Linked DNA regions of Homo sapiens: all the other regions are linked to region 1. Evidence: fine-mapped expression QTL. A gene starts in region 1. Each other region holds a variant in brackets. All regions are shown on one strand. Distances are between the middles of the regions.

Region 1 (5,103 bases):
GTTTGAGACCAGCCTGGCCAACATGGTGAAACCCCATCTCTACTAAAAATACAAAAAAAAGCCGGGCATGGTGGCATGTGGCTGTAGTCCCAGCTACTCGGGAGGCTGAGGCATAAGAATTGCTTGCACCCGGGAAGCGGAGGCTGCAGTGAGCCGAGATGGCGCCACTGCACTGCAGCCTGGGTGACAGAGCGAGACTCCGTCCTAAAAAAAAAAAAAAAAAAAAAGGAAACTGCCCACTTTCCCCAGTCTCCCCTTATATGCCACCCTCTCTCCAGATAATGTAAAAATTTTCTTCATCTCAAAACCTGCCAAAGGTTGAGGGGCTAAGCTCCCCGATTTCAAGGAGTTTCTTTGCCTGTAAAGCAAACAGAGCTGACATTGAAGGAAGTATTTTAGTAGAATAAATTTGTAAATTGTCAAACTTCACAAAGTAATCCCTCCTTAATAGAGCCAACTAATGTCAGAGAGAGGTCGTGTGTGTCCAACCTACCTAGTAAAACATTTTCATTTTCCCCATTTCTTGACCACTGAGTTTTCTATTCTTTCAACCATCCAGGGCCTCTGTACAGCACAGTAAAAACAGCAAAGCAGCCATTAGGACTCTCAGGGCCACAGCCATTAGGGCCAGAGTATGAGAAGCTCAAGATGAGTAACCACAAGGCATGACAGAAACACCTTTACCTTCATTTCTTACTCTGTCCAGAAGGAAGCTGAAATTGTAATCTTGTGTTCCCTACGACCTGCTACTGAAAGGCAGCTGTCACGCAAAACTATGAAATTAGCTTAAACCTCTTTTTAGAGCACGTGTTCACCAAGATTTTAATTCTTCCTTTAGGGTTACTTTGTCTCTCAGTTACCTTCTTCTTGAGATTGCACATACATCAATGAAGTTCTCTTAAGAATTATCATCTTCAATCCCCAACTCCCTTTCTCTTATGTGAAGACTCAATGAGTTACTGACTTATAACCTCTAACACTATAAATAATCCACTCAAAGTCTTCTACCTAAAACCATTCCTTATTTTCTGATATTACCCATTTCTTAGATGTTTCTCTAGGATAATTATAATTAATGTAGTAAGATCTGTGGCACTTCACAGTTTGCCAAGTGCTTTCTAAATGTACTCACTTAATCCTTACAGGCTGTGGAAAAGGTAATTCCCTCTATTTTATAGGTAAGGAAAAAGGACCGAAGAACTCACTACCATGTCGTATCAACAAAGCAAGTTGGTGGCAAACCGGACCTCCGAAATAGGTCTTCCAACTCCACACGGCATGCTCGTCCCATTCTATTATGCTCTTTTCTAAGAAGGGAATGTCTACAGTTCTGTCCCAAACCACATTTGCTTCAAGAGTAAACCATCTTCAAACCATTTCTCTAAATTGCAATCAGGTCCCCCACTCCTACGATCATGCCATTTCTTGCTTCCTCACTCTCCAGCTATGACTTCCTTCTCACTACCCGATTTCCACTCTTCATGGATACTGCCATCATTCCTTCAACCCGTCCTGCAAATATCCCACCTCTACATGCTAAAGGGAGACCCCTCATGTTCCTTCCCCCAAACCCTGGCACTCCCTTCTCCGGATATGTAGGTTGTCACCCCATAAACTACACAGTAGCTTCTCGCTTCTCGGCCCTTAACGAGCTACTTACTAACTTTAAAAGCCCCACAGAAATGAACTTAACTTGCAGGTCCTCCACCTCCACACTTGGCCCTGGGCGCCATTCCTCTGAAAATAATAGTACCAACCCTTACAAAGACTCTGCCCATGCCCCACTGTCACCAACGAATTCCTTTTCCAGAAGGAAAAGGAAACAGGTTCTTCAGGCTCCTCTTCCAACCTCTTCACCAGTGACTCCCCTCCAAGGTTCGTGGACTCTACCCCCGCAGTTTTCCTCCCCTCACTCCCGGGCCTCTGCCCACCTCACCAACTCTCCCTGCGCTCCCTGTCCCAGAGCCAAGCGGCGGCCGCTCCACTCTCCCAACTTAGAAGTTCTGCCTCTATCACCTGTTCTCACTAGAGCTTCCTCTCAGCCCAGCGGCCCACCTTTGCCCTGGCCTGCCTCTCTCCACCCCTTCGAGTCCTCCTGCCCAGGAAACACCCCCACGAGTCAGTTCCGGGGTGCCTGTCGGATTCAACTTCCCATCCGTGGGATTCCCACCCCCGGGGTCATGCTCCCCTTCTCCATCACCTGCTCCGCCCATAGCCAGATGACATCCGCCGCTGCCTCCTCCTCCATTCCCCTTCTCGGACGCCAGGTCCCCGGCCACTCACCGCCCTCCGTGCGCGCCAGCCGCCCCCTCCGGTGGGGAAGAGGGGGGCGTGCACCCCAACCCGCGCCCCCCCCCCACGACACGCACCTGTTCTTCCTCCTCTTCCCCTCGGCGGGCCGCGCCGGCGCCCCGACCCCCACCCTTGCCGCCTCCCGGCCTCCCGGAGCCCCGCACTCACCACGAGTAGGTCTGCTCCGCCATGGCGCTGCCTCTCGTGGGCTCCGCTGCAGGCTGTGGCCGGGCCCGGCGGCGGCGGGCTCGCTCGGGCCGTAGCTGAAGGCGCGGCCGGGGTCCGGTGCTTGCTTGCTTGCTCGCTCGCTGGCTCGCTGGCTGCACGGCGGGCCGGGAAGGCGGCTGGCGGGGAGAGGCCGGGCTCCGAAGCGGCCCCGCTCCCTGGGCCCCGGGGCGGGGCGGGCTCCGCTCTCGGCCTCCCTCACCCGCGGCGGCGGCGGCGGCTCCGCTGCAGCTCCAAACCCAACATGGCGGCGGCGGCGGCGCGGAGAACAAGGGGGCCCTGGGGCGGGCGAACGGCAAGACGGGCCCGCGCTCACTGCGCGCGGGGCCGCGGGAGCGCCGCGCTCGGGCGGCGGCGGCGGCGGCCGGGGGACATGGCCGGCGGGCGGAGGCGGCGGCGACTGAGGGGGGCGCTAGGCGATGAGGCGAGGCCACTCGATCACACCCGCCGAGGGGAGGAGGGGCGGGGGCGGGGGCGAGCCTTGGCCCCGCGCGGGTCACGTGCCCAAAACACGCTCACGTGATGCGCGCCCCGCCCCTCGAGCCGGGCCCATGCGCAGAGACGTCGGCTCCTGGGTTCTAGGCGGCTGCTGCTCGCACAGCCAGAGCAGTTGGGCCGCCTCCCGCTGCCTGGTGCCGCCCCCCTCCCCACGCGGAGATGTCGCCTCGGGTACCCTCTTCCGCCCCTCTCCGAGGGGCTGCTGCACCAGCCAATCGGGAACCCCGATGCGCGTCTGTTGGCTGCCACTCAGCTGTCAACCGTCAGTCAACAGTCTGCTGGCCACGGGCCCCCCAACTGTCAGTCAACCTGTCAGTCAACAGGCAGAGGGCTGCATTCCTTCGTTCGTATGTTCCTTGGTTCATTCATTCAGGTAGCAAATATTCCAGGCAGCCAACCTTTATTGCGCCCAGGCCCGGCACCAAGTCGAATACCCCACGCTTGCCTTCACAGAATCAATCAACAGATATTTGTTGGGTGCCAACCATGTGTCAACTCACTCTGCCTTCCTAGAGCTTACATTCTAAAGGAAGAGACATAGTCCAAGCCCACAAATAAGATAATTTCAGATGCTGCTAAGTTTTACAAAAACACATTTTGTAACACAAGGTGAGGGGACAGAGAGTGAGCAGAGGTGTGGGTTACTTTAGATAGGGTGGTCAAGGAAGGCCTCGCTTAGGAGGTGACATTTGAGCTGATATTGAATGATGACAGAGAGCTGGCCTTGCAAAGATCCACAGGAAAAGAGTTCCTGGCAGAGGGAACAGCAAGGGCAGAAGGCTCAGGAAACCGTCCATTTGGAGGTCTGGAAACCGGCACAGAAATAAACACGGTAGAGCTAGACCAGAGACCAACAAAGTGAATCTGGAGCTTAGATGGAGAGAGAAGAGAGAGATTAATTGAGGCCCCAGGTACTGCGGAATGCTTCCCCAGGAGTGGATGAGGCCGTCTGAAAGGGTGAGAGGCTTATCAAAGAAAAGTCATTCTTTTGGCCGGGCGCGGTGGCTCACGCCTGTAGTCCCAGCACTTTGGGAGGCCGAGGTGGGTGGATCATGAGGTCAGGAGATCGGGACCATCCTGGTTAACACGGTGAAACCCTGTCTCTACTAAAAATACAAAAAATTAGCCGGGCGTGGTGGTGGACGCCTGTAATCCCAGCTACTCAGGAGGTTGAGGCAGGAGAATGGCGTGAACCCCGGAGGCAGAGCTTGCAGTGAGCCGAGATTGCGCCACTGCACTCCAGCCTGGGCAACAGCGAGACTCTGTCTCAAAAAAAAAAAAAGAAAAAGAAAAAGAAAAAGAAAAAAAAAAAAGAAAAGGCATTCTAGAAAGAAAGAATGGCATGAAGTAAGGCCCAATTCCTGGTGAGCTTGAATCCGAGAGTGGGATGGGTGATTTGTGCTGGAGTGTTGAGAAAATATACTGAGAAGGTGCACTGAGGCCAGACTTTGAGGGCCCAGCTAAGCCTCCTTGCCAGTTACTGTGTTCATGAATAAAAATGATTAACCAGTGCAGCTTCAGAATTTAGAAACATGCCTGGGCAACAGATACACTAACCCTCCTGGACACCCCTCCACCCCCACCCTTCACCCCCCTGTTTCTCTGCAGAAGGCAAAACTCACACACCTGAAACCAACGTACTCAAGCTTCTCTGCAGCTTGCCCAACTTTAGGCCAGAATTTAGCTCTGCTCCAGTTTCCCAGGGCCTGCCCAGGCTTACAGGGAACACCACACCCTGAATCTATCTCCAAATGGATCAGTTGGCCATTGCCCATACATCTGCCGCTTGCCTGTTCCCCAAGGGAAACCCTTTAAAGAGAAAGCCAAGTACACTTTCCCTTCAGAAGCAAAGCTCTCCTTCCTTATTCCCCCACTGCCAGGTGCCAGGACCAGTTAGGTTCCAAGTGTTTCCTCCAAAGCTCTATCAGAGAGCCCTGGGAAAAGGCTCACTGATGAGATTGAGGTCCAGGCCGGGCGCGATGGCTCACGCCTGTAATCCCAGCACTTTGGGAGGCCAAGGCAGGTGGATCATGAGGTCAAGAGGTCGTGACTATCCTGGCCAACATGGTGAAACCCCATCTCTACTAA
Region 2 (5,103 bases), 110 kb before region 1:
CTCGGCTCACTGCAGCCTCTGCCTCCTGGGTTCAAGCGATTCTCCTGCCTCAGCCTCAGTAGTAGCTGGAATTAGAGGCATGCGCCACCACACCTGGCTGATTTTGTATTTTTAGTAGATAGGGTTTCTCCATGTTGGTCAAGCTGATCTTGAACTCCCAACCTCAAGTGATCTGCCTACCTTGGCCTCCCAAAGTGCTGGAATTACAGGTGGGAGACACTGCGCCTGGATATCTTGGCACTTTTTAAAGAACATCTTGGCAAAAATTTCTCTTGTACTTTTGCATCTTTCAAAAGATCTAACAGAATGTTGAGTACATGGCAGATCTCAATATAAATGTATTAATATTATCAAATCAAGTCACTTCAAATTCAAATCTTTCTATAAGCATCAAACATTTTTATTAACGTTATTGAGGTACAATTACATACCGTAAAATTCACTCATTTTAAGTATAATTCAATGTTTTTTTATACCAATCATAAATCCTTGAACCCAGTAAATTATTAACTGGAGGTATAGAAACAGCCAAATTAAGAAAACTATATGTACAGAAGTTAATTGACATAAAATATCTTACTATTATTGGTGCTGTTGCCATTGAAAGACCCAGAAGAACTATTACTGTCTTTCTCCTTATCTTGATTTTCAAAGTCCATATTAAGGGACCTGTGGAAAAAAATTTTGTAGTTAAGTTGTAGTTTTGCTTACAAAAGAAGGTCAGAAAAGTCATATGACAATATTTTTAAATGCCAAGGAATTAGGAAAGAAGGTCTCTTTTGAACAACTCTGAAAAATAGCTCTTGTAACATTTTAAAAAACAATCTTCAGTCCTTCCAATGTGTCAGTTCAAGAGTTTTCCTGACTGCAGATGAAAGCATCCCAATGCAGCTGAATCTTCCACTCCTATCTCTGAGCATATCATATCCTTAATTACTTCCTTATGATAAAAGCCTAGAAGGAGAAATGTCAAAGGGCAAGCACATTTTGAGACTTTTACATACCACACAACTGTTCGCAAAAAGGCTGCATCAGTTCACTCTCTCAGCAGTGTATGAGAGCACTCATTTCCCTATACCCTGTCAGCTGTGATTCAACAACAAAAAAAATTTGAGTGTCTTCTATATCTGGAACTGTTCTAGGTACTACAGGGACAATAAATAGCAAACACAAGACTGGATTTTATATTCAAGGGGGGAGATGTAATAGACCAGAAAAATAAGTTCAATACATAGCGTGTTCATGGCAGGTGCTAAGGAGGAAAACTAGGAAATGCAGGGGTTAGGGTTTGAAATTTTAGACAGGATGAACAGGAAGGCCTCACTGACAGTGACTTCAGAGTCAAGACCTGAAGGAAGTAGTCACTGTCTATCTGGGGAACTAAAAATGGCACGTCACTTTGATTTAGAATTCTTTAACCAGTGAATAATGTTGTGTACAAAAGCTTGCTCATTTCTTTCTTTTTTTTTGTGAAGTATCTGTCCAAGTTCTTAGCTAATTTTCTGCTAGTGTTTTCCTGTAAAGAAGGTGTTTGTGGGTGCAGTGGCTCACGCCTGTAATCCCAGCACTTTGGGAGCCCCAGGCGGGCAGATCACGAGGTCAGAAGATCGAGACCATCCTGGCCAACATGGTGAAACCCCGTTTCTACTAAAAATACAAAAATTTGCTGGGCGTGGTGGTGCGTGCCGGTAGTTCCAGCTACTTGGGAGGCTGAGGCAGGATAATTGCTTGACCCCAGGAGGCAGAGGTTGCAGTGAGCCAAGATTGCGCCACTGCACTCCGGCCTGGCAACAGAGTGAGACTGTCTCAAAAAAAAAAAAAAAAAAAAAAAGTTGTTTTTTTGCAAAAGAACTTTCTGTTATGATGGTCTTTATCTGCACTGACAAGTGCTGTGGACATCAGCCACATCATGTGATCACTGAAATGTGGCTGGTAGGACAGAGGAACTGACTTCTAAAACTATACAGCTTTTAGATAAAAACACATGGTAAATCTCTGTGACCTTGGATTTGGAGTAGATTCTTAGATATGATGCTAAAAAACAGAGAAAAACTTAAAAAACTTACGTGCCTCAAAGGACACTAACCAAAAAGTCAAAAGACAACCCATAGGATGGGAGAAAATCTTTGCAAATCATGTATCTGATAAGGGACTTGTGTCTAGGATATATAAAGAACTCTTACACCTCAATAATAAAAAAGACAACCTGATTTTAAAATGAACAAAGGATCTGAAGAGACATTTCTTCAAAGAAGATACACAAATAGCCAATGAGCCCATGAAAAGATGTTCAACACCGTTAGTCATCAGGGAAATACAAGTCAAAACCATGAGAAACTGGCTGGAAGCGGTGGCTCACGCCTGGAATCCCAGCACTTTGAGAGGCTGAGGCAAGAGGCTCACTTGAGACCCATGTGGGCAACACAGTGAGACCCTGTCTCTATAAAAAATAAAAGAATTAGCTGGGTGTGGTGGCATGTGCCTACAGTTTCAGCTACTCGCCAGGCTGAGGTAGGAGATCACTTGAGCCCAGGAGGTCAAGGCTGATGGCACCACTGCACTCCAGCCTGAGCAACAAAGTGAGACACTGTCTCCTCAAAACAAAACCACCACCATGAGAAACCACTTCACACATAGCAGGATGGCTATAATAAAAAAGTCAGATAACTAAGTGTTGGCAAGGACACAAGGATGTAAAACTGGAACCTTCATACACTACTAGTGGGAATGTGAACTGGTGCAGACACTTTGGAAAACAGAATCTAACCATGTTGACACCCTGACCTGAGAATTCCAATCTCCAGAACTCTGAAAAAATAAATTTGCTGTTTAAGCCACCCAGTCTATGGGTATTTCATGGCAGCCTGGGCTAATGCAGATCAGATTTCATACCTGAATCCTTTTAAATGTATTGAGATTTGTTTCATGTCCCCATATATGGTCTGCATTAGTAAATATTCCACATACACTTGAGAAAGAGCGTGTGTTCTGTTGTTGGATGGAACATTCTATAAATGTCAATTAGGTCAAATTGATTAAGAGTATTGTTGAAATCCACTGTATCTTCACTGATTTTCTGCCTAATTATTCTATTATTG[G/A]GAGTGGTACTGAAATCTTCAGCTATATTTGTGAATTTATTTCTCCTTGCAGTTCTCTCAGTTTTTGCTTCATGTATTTTGAAGATCTTTTATTAGATACATAAACATTTGTGATTGTTATGCTCTCTTGCTTAATTGACCCCTTTGTCATTACAAAATAACCTTCTTGTCTGTGGTAGTATTCTTTACTCTGAAAGCTGCTTTGTCTTATATTAATACAGCCATTCCAGCTTTCTGTAGATGAGTATAAGCAGCATATCTTTTCCTAACCTTTTACTTTTAACTATTTTTTTTTTAATCCTAACCACTAGACAACAGGGATTAACCTTTTTTGGCTTTATAGTGTGCTTCTTGTAAGCAGCATATATTTGGGTCTTGCTTTTTTATTCAATTTCACAATTGCTGTTTTATTTTTATTTTTATTTTTTTGAGACAGAGTCTCAATCTGTCACCCAGGCTGGAGTGCAGCAGTGTAGTCTTGGCTTACTGCAACCTCTGCCTCCCAGGTTCAAGCAATTCTCCTGCCTCAGCCTCCCGAGTAGCTGGGACTACAGGCGCATGCCACCACACCCTGCTAATTTTTGTATTTTTAGTAGAGACGGGGTTTCACTATGTTGGCCAGGCTGGTCTCGAACTCCTGACCTCATGATCCGCCTGCCCTGACCTCCCAAAGTGCTGGGATTAGAGGCGTGAGACACTGCACCTGGACAACTGCTGTTTTAAAGAGGTGTGTAGACCAATTTCATTGAATGTGATCAGTGATACAATTAAGTTTGAGCCTATCATCTTACTATTTGTTTCCTACTTGTCCTATTTTATTTCCCCTTAACCTGACTTTGTTTGGATTAATATAGCATTTTTTATGATCCAATTTGATCTCCTTTGTTGTCCTATGAGCTATAACTCTTTGCTCTTTAATTTTAGTGGCTGCTGTAGGGTCTATAGTATACATCTTTAACACAGTCTACCTTCCAGTTATATTGTAACATTCATGTATAGTATAAACTCCTTACAATAGTTTATATTTATTTCCCTCCCTCAACCTTTGTGCTACTGTGGCCATGCATTTAACTCTTACATGTTATCTTATAAACCTCACAATATATAATGTTTGTTTATGTTGTCAATTATCATTCATTCTTTCATTCATCTTGCTATGTTGCCCAGGCTGGTCTCAAACATCTGGGCTTGAGCAATCAATCCTTCTGCTTCAACCTGCCAAGTAGCTGGGATTACAGGTACACACCACTGTGCCCAGCTCCAGTCAATTATCTTTTACACAACTGTAAATAGAAAAAAACTTTTATCGATGGATGTTCATTTCTGGTGATCTTAACTCCCTTGTGTAAATACAGATTTAAGGCTGGTACCATTTTCATTCTGCTCAAAAGACTTCCTTTAACATTTTTTAGTGTAAGACAGCTGGTGATGAGATGAATTCTTTCCGGTAGTGTATGGTATGTCAAAAACATCTTTACTTTGCCTTCATTTTTAAAAGATATTTTTGCTGTAGAATCTTACAGTGACAGTTTTTTTCTTCCTGTACTTTAAAGCTACCGTTACATTGACTTTTCACTTGTATTTTCAAATCTGACATCACCCTCATCTTTTCTCCTCTGTACCTAACATGCTTTTTTGCCCCCTCTGGCAGCCTTGGGGATTTTCTTTTACCACTCATTTTGAGCTACTGATTATGTGTCTTGGTGTAGTTTTCTTCATGTTTTTTGTGCTTATAATCTGCAGTTTTGAATCTGCAGATTATAGTTATCAAATTTAGAAAAAACTTGGCCATTATTTCTTCATGTATTATTCTGTCCCTCCCTTTCTTCTCCTCTTTCAGGGACTCCATTACCCATACAGTAGGCCACTGGAGGTTTCTCTCTAATGTTCAATGATAGCTCCATTATGATCTTTTCATGTTTAAAAAAATTATTCTTTTCTGTACTTCATTTTGGATTAATTTCCATTACTGTGCCTTCAAGTTCACTAATCTTTTCTTCTGCAG
Region 3 (5,103 bases), 160 kb before region 1:
GGGCAGACATGGTGCAGGCAGGCCAGAGACCTAACAGGAATTTGCAGAGCTCCAGAGCCTGAAGACTCAGCCCCGGCAGATTGCTTAGGCCAAGGGCAGGGGCGTGGGAAGGAAAACCTGGCATCCGGAAAACGGAGCCATCTGAACGGATGCCCCTGATGCTGCTCTCCAGCCCAAACTCTCCAGGGTGCAGAGGGTGGCTGCCTCTCCATAGGAAGGTGAGGGCTTCTGCTACTGGAAGAGTCTGCGGAAGCCGCTCCCAACAAGGCCACAGGTGCCCCTCTGCAGCGGCCCTCACCTCCTCTCCTGGCTGCCGGGCCCATGACTGCGGTCGAAGCCCAGTGTCACCCAGCTGGGGACAGGCTGGAGCTGATGAGAAAGCGACGCTACACTGGTATTGGTTTTCTACTCTAGCAACACATCACTACACGCTTAGTGGCTTGAAGAAATACCCATCTTAAAGGGCCAGGCACAGCAGCTCAGCCCTGTAATCTCAGCTCTTCGGGAGGCCGAGGTGGGAGGATGGCTTGAGCCCAGGAGTTCAAGAGCAGCCTGGGCAACACAGGGAGAGCCCATCTCTACAAAAAATAAAAAATAAATTAGCTGGACGCAGTGCCGCATATCTAGAGTCCTAGCTACACAGGAGGCCAAGGAGGGAAGATCACCTGAGGCCAGGGATGCAAGACCAGCCTAGGCAACATAGTGAGACCCTGTCTCTACAAAAAAAAAAAAATTAGCCAGGCTCAGTGATGCATGCCTGTACTCCCAGCTACTTGGGAGGTTAAATTAGGAGGATCACATGAACCCAGGAGTTCGAGGCTACAGCGAGCTGAGATTACACCACTGCACTCCAGCCTGGGCAGCAGAGCAAGGCCCTGTCAAAAAACCAAAAAAAAAAAAAAACCAAAAAAACAAACCCATCTCATAGTTTTCATGGTTCAGGAGTCTGGGCGTGGCTTAGCTGGATGCTCTGTCCAGGGTCTCACAAACTGAAAGCAAGGGACTGCAGTCTCATCTGAAACTCCGTTCCCTTCCACGCTCACGTGAGCATTAGCAACATAGCAAGGCCCCATCTTAAAAAAAAAAAGATAAACATATAAATACTAAAAGAGTCCGAGGAAGTGAGACGGGCGAGTCAGGGGACTCATGTTTTTGGTACGAGATTTTAATACAATTTGATTTTTGTGTATTTTATATTTAATACACAAAATGAAAACATGGCATACCAAAACCTATCATACTCAGCCGGGCGCGGTGGCTCACGCCTGTAATTCCAGCACTTTGAGAGGCTGAGGTGGGAGGATCACGAGGTCAAGAGATTGAGACCAGCCTGGCCAACATGGTGAAACCTCATCTCTACTAAAAATACAAAAATTAGCTGGGCATGGTGGCATGCACCTGTAGTCCCAGCTACTCAGGAGGCTGAGGCAGGAGAGTCGCTTGCACCAGGGAGGCAGAGGTTGCAGTGAGCCGAGATAGTGCCACTGTACTCCAGCCTGGGCGACAGAGCAAGACTCCGTCTCAAAAAACAAAACAAACAAAAAAAAAAACTATCATACTCATGCTGATGAAATTTAAAATCTACATAAATGATTTATCTTCCAGGAAAACAAATACACAGAATTGATTCTAGAGAAGGCAGAAAAAACAAACAAACACAAAAAACAGACCAGTAAGACTAGAACAAATTGAAAAGGAGTTAAACATTTGTCCCCACAAAAGGCATCTCCTAACAGAGTCAGTGGAAATGTAACTCAACTGGAATTGCCTCTCAGAGCAGGCGGAAGGGTAAATTGGTACAATTATTGAGGAGAAATGCTGTATTCCAACAATGAGCATACATACAACTATAAAAAAGAATGAACTACTGACCATAAATTGCTAACATGGCTGAATCTTACAAATGTAACATTAAGCAAAAAAGGTTAGGCTCAAAGCTGGGCACAGTGGCGTGCACCTATAACCCTGGCTACTTGGAGGCTGAGGTAGGAGGATTGCTTGAGGATGCTCCAGCAGTTGGAGACCAACCTGGGAAACATAAGGAGACCCCCATCTCAAAACAAGCAAACAAAGTTAAATTTAAAAAAAGGTAGGCCAGACATGGTGGCTCACGCCTGTAATCCCAGCACTTTGGGAGTCCGAGGCAGGCGGGTCATGAGGTTAGGAGATCAAGACCATCCTGGCTAACAGAGTGAAACCCTGTCTCTACTAAAAATAACAAAAATTAGCTGGGCGTGGTGGCGTATGTCTGTAATCCCAGCTACTCAGGAGGCTGAGTCAGGAGAATCGCTTGAACCCGGGAGGCGGAGGTTGCAGTGAGCCGAGATTGCACCACTGTACTCCAGCCTGGGGGACAGAG[C/G]GAGACTCTGTCTCAAAAAAGTTTATAGTCAAGACTTCATAATGTATTCACTGTATTACATGAATTTCAAATGCAAGCAAAACTAATCTGTGGTGACTGAAATTAGAACAGTGGTTACCTTGGGGGCCACTGACAAGAGGCACAAGAGAAGCTTGCTGGGTGCTGGAAAGGTTTTATATTCTGATCCGAGTGGTGGTGGTTCAGGTATAGTCATGTGGAAAGAGTCACGAAGGCTGTACACTTAAAATAGGTGGACATTAATGCTTCCAGCTCAGTATTTTTTTTTTTAATAAAAAAAAAAAAACACGGTATCTGGCCCAGATGGCTCTATTGAGAGTTCTAAAAGAGGCAAGAGGAAAGGCCAAGGGTTTCCACAGTCTGCGTTTCTGTTGTGAGCAGGCCTGGCTTACTCAGTCTTTGCTGCTCTCTGGGAGTGCCTGGAGCTATGGCACTGACCTGGGACAAGCTGAGAAGGAAACTCTTGGAAGGTGCATGTAGTTACTGATGAATGTTAATCTGTAGGCCTGGTGCACTGGGGCAGGATGAGCAGCCTGTCAGATGTCAGAATGTTTAACATCAAGATTTAGGATGTGCGGCCGGGCGCGGTGGCTCACGCCTGTAATCCCAGCACTTTCGGAGGCCGAGGCGGGCGGATCACAAGATCAGGAGATCGAGACCATCCTGGCTAACACGGTGAAACCCCCGTCTCTACTAAAAACAAAAACAAAAAATTAGGTGGGTGTGGTGGCGGGCGCCTGTAGTCCCAGCTACTCGGGGCCGGGGGTGGGAGGCTGAGGCAGGAGAATGGCGTGAACCCAGGAGGCGGAGCTTGCAGTGAGCCAAGATCGTGCCACTGCACTCCAGCCTGGGGGACAGAGACAGACTCTGTCTCAAAAAAAAAAAAAAAAAAAAAAAACTTAGGATGTGCGTCTGGCCTCTGTTTTGGAGTGCTGTGTTTTGGTTACCATGGCTGGTCATGTGGCAGGAAAGTGCCTATGTGACCATCTTCTTAGAACAACAGGTTTTGAGACCTGGGTGTTTCCCTGGGCAGAGACATCTCACATCTCTGTGGTTCACACCTGGAAAGAAACACACCGTGCAGCCTGCTCTCGGCCTCCCTGGACTTTGTCTATGTGTATCTTTCTCTCTGGTCCCGTGGTGTATCCTTCGCTTAGTCAACCTTAGCTGTGATATAACCTCATCAGGTCATGTGAATCCTTCTAGTTAATAACTGAAGTAGGAAGGGGTCCCGATTCATCCGCCATAGCCCCCAGCTCTGCCTCACTCAGGTCTGCTGTGCTCCCCTCTACATTTGCTCACAACCGCCTTCTCTCCCTAGAATTTTCTTCTGATCTTTAGTTCCCTGAATCAATATGCTTTCCTTTAATCTCTATAGCACTCAGGCTTTGGCTAAGGCAGGAAGCCAACAACCTATATGCTAGTTCACCACCTTGGGGCAAACCAGAAGTCACCCACTATTAAAAAAAATTGTTTATTGCTGACATATTTCGTTTTTATTTCTGTTTATCTGGTTATGTTGAAGAACTTCGTTAGTTCTTTCAATAGATTATCCACTCAGGCCGGGCATGGTGACTCACACCTGTAATCCCAGCACTTTGGGAGGCCCAGGTGGGTAGATTACCTGAGGTCAGGAGTTCGAGACCAGCCTGGCCAACATGGTGAAACCCTGACTCTACTAAAAATACAAAAATTATCCGGGCGTGGTGGTGCACGCCTGTAATCCCAGCTACTTGGGAGGCTGAGGCTGGAGAATCGCTTGAACCCGGAAGGCGGAGGCGGAGGGTGCAGTGGAATGGTATGGTGCCGCTGCACTCCAGCCTGGGCGACAGAGCAAGACTCTGTCTCAAAAAAAAAAAAAAAAAAGCCTTTTTTTACACTCCTCGATACCAAGGCTCTCTGGTGCTCACACTTAGCCGTGAACTGCTTGTTCACAGTTCTCAGTTTCTCACTTGCTGCAGATAGAGCATCAGGACGATTGAGCAGTGAGCAGCCACCTCGGCACTTTCCCTGGCATTGTCCCACCTCCACCCTGGATAGCCTTCAAATTCTGCATCATCACAGCTGCCACAGCATTCCCTCCTCCAGGACATTCCCAGGTCACCACTGATCAGATCTTTAGCAATGGAGCCACCACGCTGGGCTGGGATCTATTTATGCCACCTACTGACCAGAACACCAGAACACCTTGATGTGGGTCATTTTTCATTCATTTAGCTGGGCACGTGGTGGGTCTTTCCATCTAGAGATCCATGTTTTTTTCCTCCATGTTCTTTAATTCTTGGAACTATTACATTATTTCTTTGATAATTTTATTCACTTTTTTTTTTTTTTGAGACAGGGTCTTGCTCTGTTGTCCGCACTGGAGTGCAGTGGTACAATTATGGCTCACTGTAGCCTCAGGCTCCTGGGCCCAAGCAATCCTCCCACCTCAGCCTCCCGAGTAGCTGGGATTACAGGCATTTGCCACCAGACCTGGCTAATTTTTTTTTATTTTTAGTAGAAACAGAGTATTGCTATGTTGCCAGGCTGGTCGCAAACTCCTGGGCTCAAGTGATCCTCCCATCTTGGCCTCCCAAAGTGCTGGGATTATGGGTGTGAGCCACTGTACCCAGCTTGATTCACTCTTTTTTTTTGGTTTGCTTTCTAAATTCCTAGAAGTCTGATGTTGTACTTTCTTGGTCGAACCTCTAATTTTCTTTTCTCTCCTATTTTCCTACTTTGAC
Region 4 (5,103 bases), 100 kb before region 1:
ATCCTTCCTGGAAGAAACTTAACCAAATGACTGGGCTCAGGTCACACTGATAATGATCTTAACTTCGTAGTTTCCCACCTCTATGACTCAAAATTTCTTACTGGATTTGAAAGACTTGCCCCTCTACTAACAGCCTGACTCTAGCTGCCACTCTTGTTTCCTGTACTTTCATTCACTAAAACTCCCTTCTCTGTTACTGGTACCAAGGAAGCCTCAATTAGAATGGGGGGTCTGGGGAGGATAATCTATGAAGTAGAGACTGGTTAGTTACATGTCACCCTGTTCTCATATAAATCTGGCCAACGAACTGTTTAGCAAACTGTTCCACTGGAGGGCAGCCCCAGTGGGTGACAGCTCCCCAGCAGGACCAAAACACAGCGACTTTTAGATGTGGTGGACTCCCTGAAACATGGTTAAGACTCCTCTTCTGAAATATGGTCAGGTGTCTGATGTGTTGGCTTTCCTGGGGGTTTTTTTATTTTAAAAAAGCCTTGGATTTTAGAAGATTCATATACAGTATTTGAGACATATTTCTCCAGCCATCAGAGGAAGACACATTAGCAGAGATTAAAACGTACACTTACTGCTCATACCTCAGTCACACTTAGAGGAATAGCTATGGCAACTGGCTCCTGAAAAACTTTTTCCTAATTAGTTCCACAACAAACTAGATGTAGTATTTTGCATATATTTCCCCTGCCAACGCACCTGTGGTAGTTTCTAGTACATGGTTTCACTTCTATGATCTTTTAAGCTTTAATTCATGTTTTCGCACAGCAGAGCTAACAATGTGCAGGACCTAAACTCTAGGGTTGGTGATGCATTTAATGGGAACGTCTCTGGAGTCAATGGAACATGAAGACTGCTCCTTCCCTGTGGGCATGTTTTGGAAACACATATATTAATTTAAATTGAGTTTTTCAAATTCACTTATGAATGGAATAACAATAACTACACTTGTTATATTCTGCTTCTCAGAATCTGGTGACAGCAGGTTAAATGTGCAGGAATTTTTATCTACATCTCTACCCTTGGGGCTACACAGATTGCCAGCTTCTCTTACTTTTTCTGTTGGCATTATATCGCTATTCTGGATTGGAAGGTTGCCAGTCATCTCTTTGGTTTAACCCTAGGCACAGCTGCTACGGAGCCTCTCCCATGAGACTGGGTTAGTGAGAATAGGTGCTGAGAACCCCCCGCGGGACAGGATGAAGGGTTATATAACTCAATTTCAATTTGTTATTAGTTGAGAACTATTTATAACTCCATCCTGGATGTTTTAAGGCAAGATTTTCCCCTTTTTTCAAATACAGCTGCTCCTTGACTTACAATGGAGTTATATCCCAATAAGCCCAGGTAAGTGGAAAAATCTCAAGTTCAAAATGCGTTTAATATTCATACATCTAACCTACTGAACATCATAGTTTAGCCCAGCCTACCTTAAACGTGCTCAGAACACGTACATTAGCCTACAGTTGGGCAAAATCATCTAACACAAAGGCCTGTTTTGTAATAAAGTGCTGAATATTTCAAGTAACTTACTGAATACTGTACTGAGAGTGAAAAACAGAATGGTTGTATGGGTACTTGAAGTATGCTTTCTACTGAAATCATACTGCCTTTGTACCATCATGAAGTGGAAAAATCTTAAGTTGAACCATCATTAAGTCAAACCGTTGGTAAGCTAGGGATCTTCTGTAGCAGAAAGTAGTGGTCAACTTCAAACCAGTTTTAGCTGGTCCATTTTCTTAGCATCTAACTGACAAGAACTGCAGCAGGGACAGGAAAGCCTTAGGCAGGAATGAGGTACTATCAGATGGTGGGGGAGGGTGGAGGACTGGTAAGGAGAGCAAGCATTCTTCTAGTTCTCTGTGTAATTAGAAGACTTTGAACTTCTCACTGCCTCAAACAAGCTTAGCTAAAATCAAGCCTTGTTTGGTTGTTAGAAGCAGACCATGGGTCACCGCTGCACAAAACAGAAATGGGGCACAGTGAGTTAGTAGGGCCTTACCTATTAGCTCAAGCTGGGAAGATTCATATCTTCCAGCTTTATACAACAAGCTTAAAGGGCCTGGGCTTAGCAGATCCCATGCCACTATGACTGGGGTCCGGTAAAGTTACTCACACTGCACAGCTGACAGCAAACTTAAGCTGTTTAAATAAAGCCTTTGCAAAAGACTCTGCCTCCAAAGCTATCCAGGACTATTTTCAATTATAGGCCTTTAACTTAGCTTATTTGGTAATTTATTAAGTGCATAGACATCAGATTGCTAGGTTGGACCTAGAACAGTTCGCTGCATCTTCACAGAAGACTACTCTTCATTCTCTTCCATCTTGACCTGCCTTCACAATCTTGTTATTGCTATACAGTAACATAATATGATGTTAATATAACGTTATAAATATACATTCCATCCAAATTGTATCCTGGCTATTTGCAAGTCTAGGTACTGAAATCAATGTTTAGGTCAGGTGCGGTGGTTCATGCTTGTAATCCTAGCACTTCAGGAGGCTGAGGCTGGTGGATCACCTGAGGTTAGAAGTTCGAGACCAGCCTGGACAACATGGTGAAACCCCGTCTCTACTAAAAATACAAAAGCTAGCTGGGCCTGGTGGCGCACACCTGTAATCCCAGCTACTCAGGGG[G/C]CTGAGGTAAGAAAACTGCTTGAACCCGGGAGGTGGAGGTTGCAGTGAACTGAGATCACACCACTTCACTCCACCCTGGGCAAAAGAATGAAACTCAGTCTCAAAACAAAAAAACAAAAAACAAAACAAGAAAAAGAAATCAATGTTTAAATGATCAACAGAAGGACTTGAGCTATGGCTTTTTCATCACAGACAACCATTTACCATCACAGAAAAAAAATCCATCTAAATTATAGCATATTATATGCTATTTTTTTTTGTCTTTTCATCAACTATGACTGAACAGGAAGTAGTTATGGGTCAAGGTGTAGGAGGTCAACAAATGTCCAATTATTGATACTTACATAGAACCTACACTAAGAAAGAAAGACTAAGAACCTGGGCAGGAAGAAACAGTCTCTGACTCAGCAGCTGAGAACATCCAGGGGGTTAAAATGATGATAATAGTTAAGCTTGATTGAGCTCATACTGTCAGGCACTGCTAGGTGCTTTACAGGCAAGGTTTCTTTTGATTCACAGAAAAACTCCATGAGTGGGGTGACCACAAATTCCAGCTTATGCCTGCTGCCTTGGCAAAATTATGAAGGAAACAAAAATATTTCACCCAAAAATATACTTCTCTGACATATTTCAGATGGTTTTCAGAAGGGCTGGAAATACAAGAATAGCTGAGAGAAGCTGTGTGGGGCAGATTTGCATCTGTAGAGAAAATATGCATTGATGAGGTGGAGGCATTTCTCTGAGGCCCTACCTTGTCCAGACACAGGAAAGATTAATTGAGAGTCTGACACCTTAGAAGGTCAGAAAGAAACATATTCCATCTATTCTCTCTCAGGGCTGCGACCTGTGAGGTTTCATCTACATGACAGGACCACCTGTGCTAGCTGGGCCTCCTCTTCTCTCTCTCTCATAATCTGTCTCACCACCATAACCTGATTTACCACCATAACCTGTCTTGCCACACTCCAAGCCCTCATTCTTTCTGTAACCTCAAGGTGGTATAAAAGCATCAGCCATCTGGCCATTTTTTTTTTTTGAGATCTTATATTTTGTAAGACTTTTGTGCACATTAACAAATCTGTATGCCTTTTCTATTAATCTGCTATTTGTCAGTGGATTTTTCAGCGAGGATTCAGGGGGCACAGAGGAAGTTTTCCCTTGGCCCTGTTACACCAAGTAATGGGCTCACTGCTTGACGCGCTACATCTTTCCACATTAGTATATACTGCTTTTTTCTCATAAAAACAAACAAACAAAAAAACCTACAGAGTATTTCTCCCCAAGTAAACTTGATCTGGTATCATTTTTAGATAAGCTGCACATGAGCTGTCTTACTACAGAGAAATATTAAGACCAGCAGGCTTTATAGGTGAATGATATGGTTTAGCCTTGAACTGGGTAAGGTCCAGATGGCCACTGACCCTGTCAGCTAATTAGTGTCAGTTAGAATGACAACTCATCAACATTCTTCAACTTTAAATTGGGTGTAAGTATAAATTCCAGTTTGGTGTTTTGGTCACTTTGATGTACATTTCACATGAAGTTTATTACAGACACTATATCAAGAAGTATATTAATATTCTGTGAGTGCCTTAATAAGATTTTAGTGTGGCTGAGGTAGAGATCTGGTTATATTTGCCCTAAATTTGTTTCAGGCTAGAATTAATTCAGTTGCAAGGAACAGAACTTTAGGAAATCAACTACTCATTTCTTTATGTCCTAGAGTGGATTAAAAAGGATTTTCTGAGGAAGATTCTAGGCCTGCCTTTAGGAACTTCCACTGCCTGCCTCAGGACAAGGGGAAACATGGGCTTATATTTAGGTATTAGGTTCCTTCATTCTGATAAAAATACGAATGCACCATGAGTGCTGTTAAGACAACTAGGTCTGTATTTAGCTGGCAACATAATACATTTTTGGGCTGCTGCTTTTATATATGTATGTATGTATGTATGTGTGTATATATATACATATATATGTATATATATACACATATATGTGTGTGTGTGTGTGTGTATATATATATATATATTTTTTTTTTTTTTCCTTTTTGAGATGGAGTCTCAGTTTGTGGCCCAGGCTGGAGTGCAGTGGCGCAATCTCGGCTCACTGCAACCTCTGCCTCCCAGTTCAAGCGATTCTCCTGCCTCAGCCTCCTGAGTAGCTGGGATTACAGGCATGCATCAACACGCCTGGCTAATTTTTGTATTTTGAGTAGAGATGGAGTTTCACCATGTTGGCCAGGCTGGTCTTGGAACTCCTGACCTCACGTGATCCTCCCACCTTGGCCTCTGAACATGCTGGGATTACAAGCGTGAGCCACCGTGCCTGGTCTGCTACCAATATTTATTAACAGATCAACATTCAAGAATAACCAGTTTAAGAATTAACAGCCCATTCATTCTCCAGATATTCCAAAATATAACCTTAGACCACACTTAGCAGTAAGATGGTTAT
Region 5 (5,093 bases), 140 kb before region 1:
CCCAGGCAGACGCTGTTGCAAGAATCTTTATTTGCTACAGGCAGTGGATGGATTTAAATGTATTTGGAACTAAGAGTAGGATTTAAATGTATTTGGAACTAAGAGTAGGCCCTAGAGCCATCAGTGTTTATGCCTTACCTGTATTTTCTGGGGTGGAGATCATTTCTAATCCTGGGATGAGGATGGAATATAATGATTAGGGACAGTGTTTAGAGCTTATTCTGCCACTTAGCAATTTGTGATCTTGGGGTCTTGGCGAGTTCCTTTGTGACAATGGTGACAGTAATGGCACCTGCCTTTATTAAAGGGCTCTTGGGAGGCATGACTGACACCCGGTGTGTGGCCATCATTGGCTGGGGCTCTCTCCAGCAGATCTCCCCAGATCTGCTTTGACACCCCAGGCCTCTGAGCTTTCTTTAGGTCATGAGTATGTCCCTTCTCCTTGCTTCACGTTCTCCTCAAATGAAGCCTGGCAACTGTGTCCCTGGCCAAATGATCAAGAGGGATGTGGGACAGGACAGGGCTGAGGACGAAGCCCGGGCCCATCCCTTCAAGGTAGCATCAGCTCCTTCATCAGCGACTTTTGGGGAGGGTCATGGGTCATCCCACCAGTTATTGATCTGCTTCATCAGACGGTGCCTCAGCCCTGATTGCTTCACTGTGTCCTGGAGGACTGAGAATTTTCCAAATGCGTGGCTGGAATCTCCTCTTTCACTCTCTCTAGTCTGGCTACTGTCCCTCTCCTATTCAGTGGACTGACCTGAGCCAAGTGGCTTAGAATGACACTGTGTTTTATTTTAACACAGGATAGGAGTTTGGCCCATGAGTCTTTTTTTTTGAGAAGGAGTCTCGCTCTGTCACCCAGGCTGGAGTGCAGTGGTGCGATCTCGGCTCACTGCAACCTTCACCTCCCAGGTTCAAGCGATTCTCCTGCCTCAGCCTCCCGAGTAGCTGGGACTACAGCCATATGCCAGCACACCCGGCTAATTTTGTATTTTTAGTAGAGACGGGATTTCTCCATGTTGGTCAGGCTGGTCTCGAACTCCCGACCTCAGGTGATCCACCCACCTCGGCCTCCCAAAGTGTTGGGATTACAGGCGTGAGCCACCGAGCCCGGCCCTGGCCCATGAGTCTTTTGTTCCAAGGGTGTTCAAGAAAAACCTAGATGTATCAACTAATACAGGCCCACAAAAGACTGACAGAATGGGAGCTTCACAGTGTAGTAAACTTTTCCCTCAAAACAAGCAGTAAGACTTTAAAGTACACTGAAGTTAAAGAGGGCACATGCAGTGTTTATTATGGAAAAAAAAAGTACAGAAAAATAAAAACGTCAACACTGGTTTGTGTGCAGAATCTGGGTAGAGGTTGATCTTCTTGGCCTTAAGAAGCCAAAATGAGGAACTGCATGGGCAGGGTCACCCACCATCCCCCTCTGCATATGGAGCTTTGTGCTAAGGCTTTCAGTGTGTAGAAGAAAATTTCAAGACCCTGGATGGGGGAAATCACCCCTCAGCAGAGGGGAGAGAACCAGTATTCCTAATGATGAACCGGGAGCTGTGGTGGTTTGAATAATGACAGCGTACAGATCTAATGATTTTAACTGTATTCCAACTCTCTGAGCATTGTGTGTGAAATATATGAGAACACAGTAAACCAGAAGAGCGCCTCATATTTACTCAATACTTTCTATGAGGCACCTTCATCCCCATTTCAGATGAAGCAGCTCGGACTCAGGGGGCTCCATCCCTAACCAGAGCCCCATGGTGGCTGTGTGGGGGATGCGCATGACAAATGCCTTCACACTCAGAGCACCACAGAGCAGTCTTCCTCCTGCCTCTCACTGTCCAGGTCATCTCGCATACTCTGCAAGGCTTTACATCACTGAAGACTTTTTTTTTTTTTGGCTTTAGCTGCTCTATTGGCTAGAACAACTCTTCTTCCCCAATTTCTTCTGTTATCTATTTTGGCAATTCATTGTTCAGGTTAAGAAGTGTGGAGTCACTGTGGAGTCCCCAACCCTGCATCCAATCTGGTAGCAAGTTCTGTTCTTCGCATCACCCTAGTCCAGGCCATGGCCTCTCTCACAGCGACTGCCCCGGGCAGAACGCCTACACTCAACAGGGGAGGGCTGCGGGAAGTGCCAGGAGGCACAAGCGAAGGAGGAAAGGTGGGGCCGGGGCTCCTGGCCAGATGGTGGTCTTGGGGAGGGTGGCACTGCATTCTACCCGCCGTCAAGCCGGCAAGGCCACGACTCATCCGTGCGATGCTTCGTCATCTTAGTTCCTCCCTGCACTAGCAAGCGCTCAGCCTCTTTCTCTGAAATTGGTTTCCGCCTTCCCCAGGGAGCTGTCACAGGATATGTTACTATCTGCCTGGGGATAAAAACCCCATCAAGGCACGACAGCAACCGCAGGTGTGAGGAAATTCAATCTCTAATGGCAAAGGCTCAAACACAAAAGCTAGAAGCTCACGTGGTGGCTACACTCCAGCAGCTCCAGGTGGGCAGAGTGAAAGGTGGCAGTAGCAGGCTGACAGGTGGTCCGCCTGGAGAGAGGCTCTCTGGTGAGACAGAGCAACTGGTGTCGGGATCCCGGGGCTGGATCGCTTGTCTTCAGACATTTGGTTGAATGCAGTGACCATCGTGCTGTCCCCCTCCGTCTCTGTCCTGTGGACACCCACTTCCTGTCTCCCATTCCTCACAAGCGCAGGCCTGCTGCCCACTGCCTGGCGGCTTCCCCACTCCCAGTCTCTCAAGTCTTGCTTCCTCTGCCTAACTGGTTCCCATTCCTGTCATCTTTGGATCTGGTGAGAATCCCAGGACTCCATGGGGGCTGGAGACAGCTCGTGGGCTTAGCTATTTTGGAACCTTCAGAGCCTCTGTTCGCCTGCAGACAGGTGGC[G/A]TGTTTTACAGGTTCTACTCAACAGGAAGAAGATGTCTTGGAACTTAAGAGAAAAACTGGTTAGGCAGACTCCAAATGAAAGGAACCAGAAGCGAAGCGGAGTCTGCCGCATGAATTCTTAAGACCTCAGGTTATCTAGGAAATCTACCGCACGCTAAAGTGCTCCTCCGTAAGTGCTGCAGTTAGAATCTTCACAGCCTCCCTGCAGGATGTTTGTATCAAGCACCTGCTAACCACTGGCTCCGTGCGGTAAGACTTCTGAAACCTGTAGTGACGAAAGATCATTGCGCTTGGGGCTGTAGGCTTTCGCTTGTCTTCAGACATTTGGTTGAATGCAGGCCTGTGTCCACCAGGAGCACTGGGCTTCTCCTACACCAACTTGCTTCTCAGCCTTCTCTTCATTGGCACATCCCGTCCAGTGATACAGGATCCCCAGCCCAAGCCTCTGCTATTTACAGCAAGGCCCAGAGTTACGGAGAGAAGGCTGTGGATTCTACTCTTGAACGCACTGTGGCATCCCTGCGTGACCTTGTGTGGGAATGGCTGCCACACCCCCTCCCCACAAGCCAAGCATGCTAAAGCAAGCCCTGCACAGACCGCAGGAGTAGGGGGTCAGGATGTCTGGTTTTGTTCACTGGGGGGCCCAGTGCCTCAAGCTTCACTGAAACATGACTGATTGCCTCTAACGGACAGGAAAGGGCTCTGGATTTCAAGGGAAAGGCTGAGGAGGAAACAGATGATGGCTGGAGCGGGAAGAATTTTGTGATGGGAGAGTCTCTGCGCATGAGACAGTTGGAATCTGAACCTGCAGAAATTTGAGTTTAGAGTTTTGCAGATAGAAAGCACCCTATACATTGCAGGGAATAGGAATAATTTCTGGATTAAAAAGTCTTACCTGGTTTATCCCTTCCAATAAGAGGAAGAAGCTTGAGTTGGATGACTCGATCTGCAGTGCTTCAGCTGACACGTGTTAGCAGCCATTGTCCTAGAAATGATTTCACTGTTGGAAACTGCTGAAGAAATGTGATTCGGTGAAGTGGGGGAGGCTGTCCTGGCCACTGTGCACTGAAGACCAGAAAGAGACCGAGATGGCTTCCTTCTGAGCCTGTACCGCTGACATAGCTCTGTAGAGAAGGGGGTTGTATAAATGATGTCCCTAAGGCATGTACTCCCATGTATAGACACGAGTGCTGCATTCCCAGGCTCTGACGTAAACGCTAGGCTTTACAAAACAGAAACGTACACACAACATGGGATCTGGTGAGCAGTAACGTGAGAGCTGCTAAGCAGACACAGCAGGTTCTATTTTTAACACTTGATTGGCAAAATGGAACTCCCTTCCCCTCCACCCTCACAGAGAACGAGTACTTTTGTTTTTCTTGTGGGTGACCTAACTTACCTGTTTACCCAAGGCCTGTGAGCCTGCTACAAAAGTAATTCAGACAGTAGCTTAGTCCCAAGCCACCGAACCGTTCCTATGCGGGGAGCTGTCACTGTCACATTCAGAAAGCGTATGCACTGTAATAACAGCAATGGAACACACTAGGCTTTGGACAGACTTTACTGTCATATCTTCATTAGCTCAAACTAGAAAAAAGAGTTATTAAAAAGCGGGAGTTCTAGTAACACACAGTCTCTTTGTGAGGAAAAAGGACTTCAGATCAGTGAGGAAGGAATCTGCTGAAATTTCATGAGCATGCCATGCCTAATGCAGCAGACTTCCTAGAAAACCCCTAAACCATGGTATTTGAGAAAACAGAATAAGAGGCGGACCTAAGTGTATCAGGCAGCGGGGAGCAAACGAGCACTGGAAGGGAAGTCTAATGTGTGCTTTAACTGCAGCCACCCACTCAACCCTCCGAGACGAGTAGAGTATTTGCTGTTTCTCTGCCAAAGTTTTAAGGGAGTGTTTTAAGGGCTTTGAAGATTAGCAACTGGAATCCAGGGTGCATTCACAGCCCTGTGTGGGTATTTCCCCCCAAAACCTGCACAGAAGTGAGAATGACAAAATAACGACGTTCCTTCTGTCTGGAATTTAATTTTCTTATGAAAACAAAGACAGAAAAATTAAAATGACCCACTGCCAGGATAACATTTCCTTTTTTTTTTTTTTTTTGAGATGGAGTCTCACCCTGTCGCCCAGACTTGAGTGCAGTGGCGCAATCTCTGCTCACTGCAACCTCCGCCTTCCAG

Evidence for each region. PIP is the estimated chance that this variant, and not a neighbour inherited with it, causes the effect.
Region 2: its variant is the best candidate, but not a certain one, in a credible set for the expression of SPPL3 in whole blood (INTERVAL, PIP 0.72).
Region 3: its variant is the best candidate, but not a certain one, in a credible set for the expression of SPPL3 in whole blood (TOPMed, PIP 0.89).
Region 4: its variant is the best candidate, but not a certain one, in a credible set for the expression of SPPL3 in blood mononuclear cells (TOPMed, PIP 0.55).
Region 5: its variant is the best candidate, but not a certain one, in a credible set for the expression of SPPL3 in spleen (GTEx, PIP 0.56).

Annotation. Positions count from the first base shown.
Region 1 is chr12:120,901,385-120,906,487 of GRCh38, forward strand. SPPL3 (signal peptide peptidase like 3) reads right to left here and starts at 2,974. Exons shown (of 11, transcript NM_139015.5): 1 at 2,461-2,974. The coding sequence starts at 2,483. XLOC_009911 (a long non-coding RNA gene) reads left to right here and starts at 3,311. Exons shown (of 2, transcript NR_131215.1): 1 at 3,311-3,388. RefSeq lists silencers at 2,324-2,373, 2,514-2,733, 2,814-3,173.
Region 2 is chr12:120,790,889-120,795,991 of GRCh38, forward strand. SPPL3 (signal peptide peptidase like 3) reads right to left here. Exons shown (of 11, transcript NM_139015.5): 3 at 581-669. Among named protein-coding and RNA genes, the nearest start is that of ACADS, 68 kb to the left of the region's middle. The variant G/A (reference allele first, on the strand shown) is at 3,099.
Region 3 is chr12:120,744,983-120,750,085 of GRCh38, forward strand. No RefSeq gene overlaps it. Among named protein-coding and RNA genes, the nearest start is that of ACADS, 22 kb to the left of the region's middle. RefSeq lists a silencer at 2,723-2,938. The variant C/G (reference allele first, on the strand shown) is at 2,360.
Region 4 is chr12:120,797,755-120,802,857 of GRCh38, forward strand. All of the region lies in intron 2 of SPPL3 (signal peptide peptidase like 3), which reads right to left. Among named protein-coding and RNA genes, the nearest start is that of ACADS, 74 kb to the left of the region's middle. The variant G/C (reference allele first, on the strand shown) is at 2,647.
Region 5 is chr12:120,757,596-120,762,688 of GRCh38, forward strand. It overlaps SPPL3 (signal peptide peptidase like 3), which reads right to left. Exons shown (of 11, transcript NM_139015.5): 11 at 4,915-5,093. Among named protein-coding and RNA genes, the nearest start is that of ACADS, 34 kb to the left of the region's middle. The variant G/A (reference allele first, on the strand shown) is at 2,901.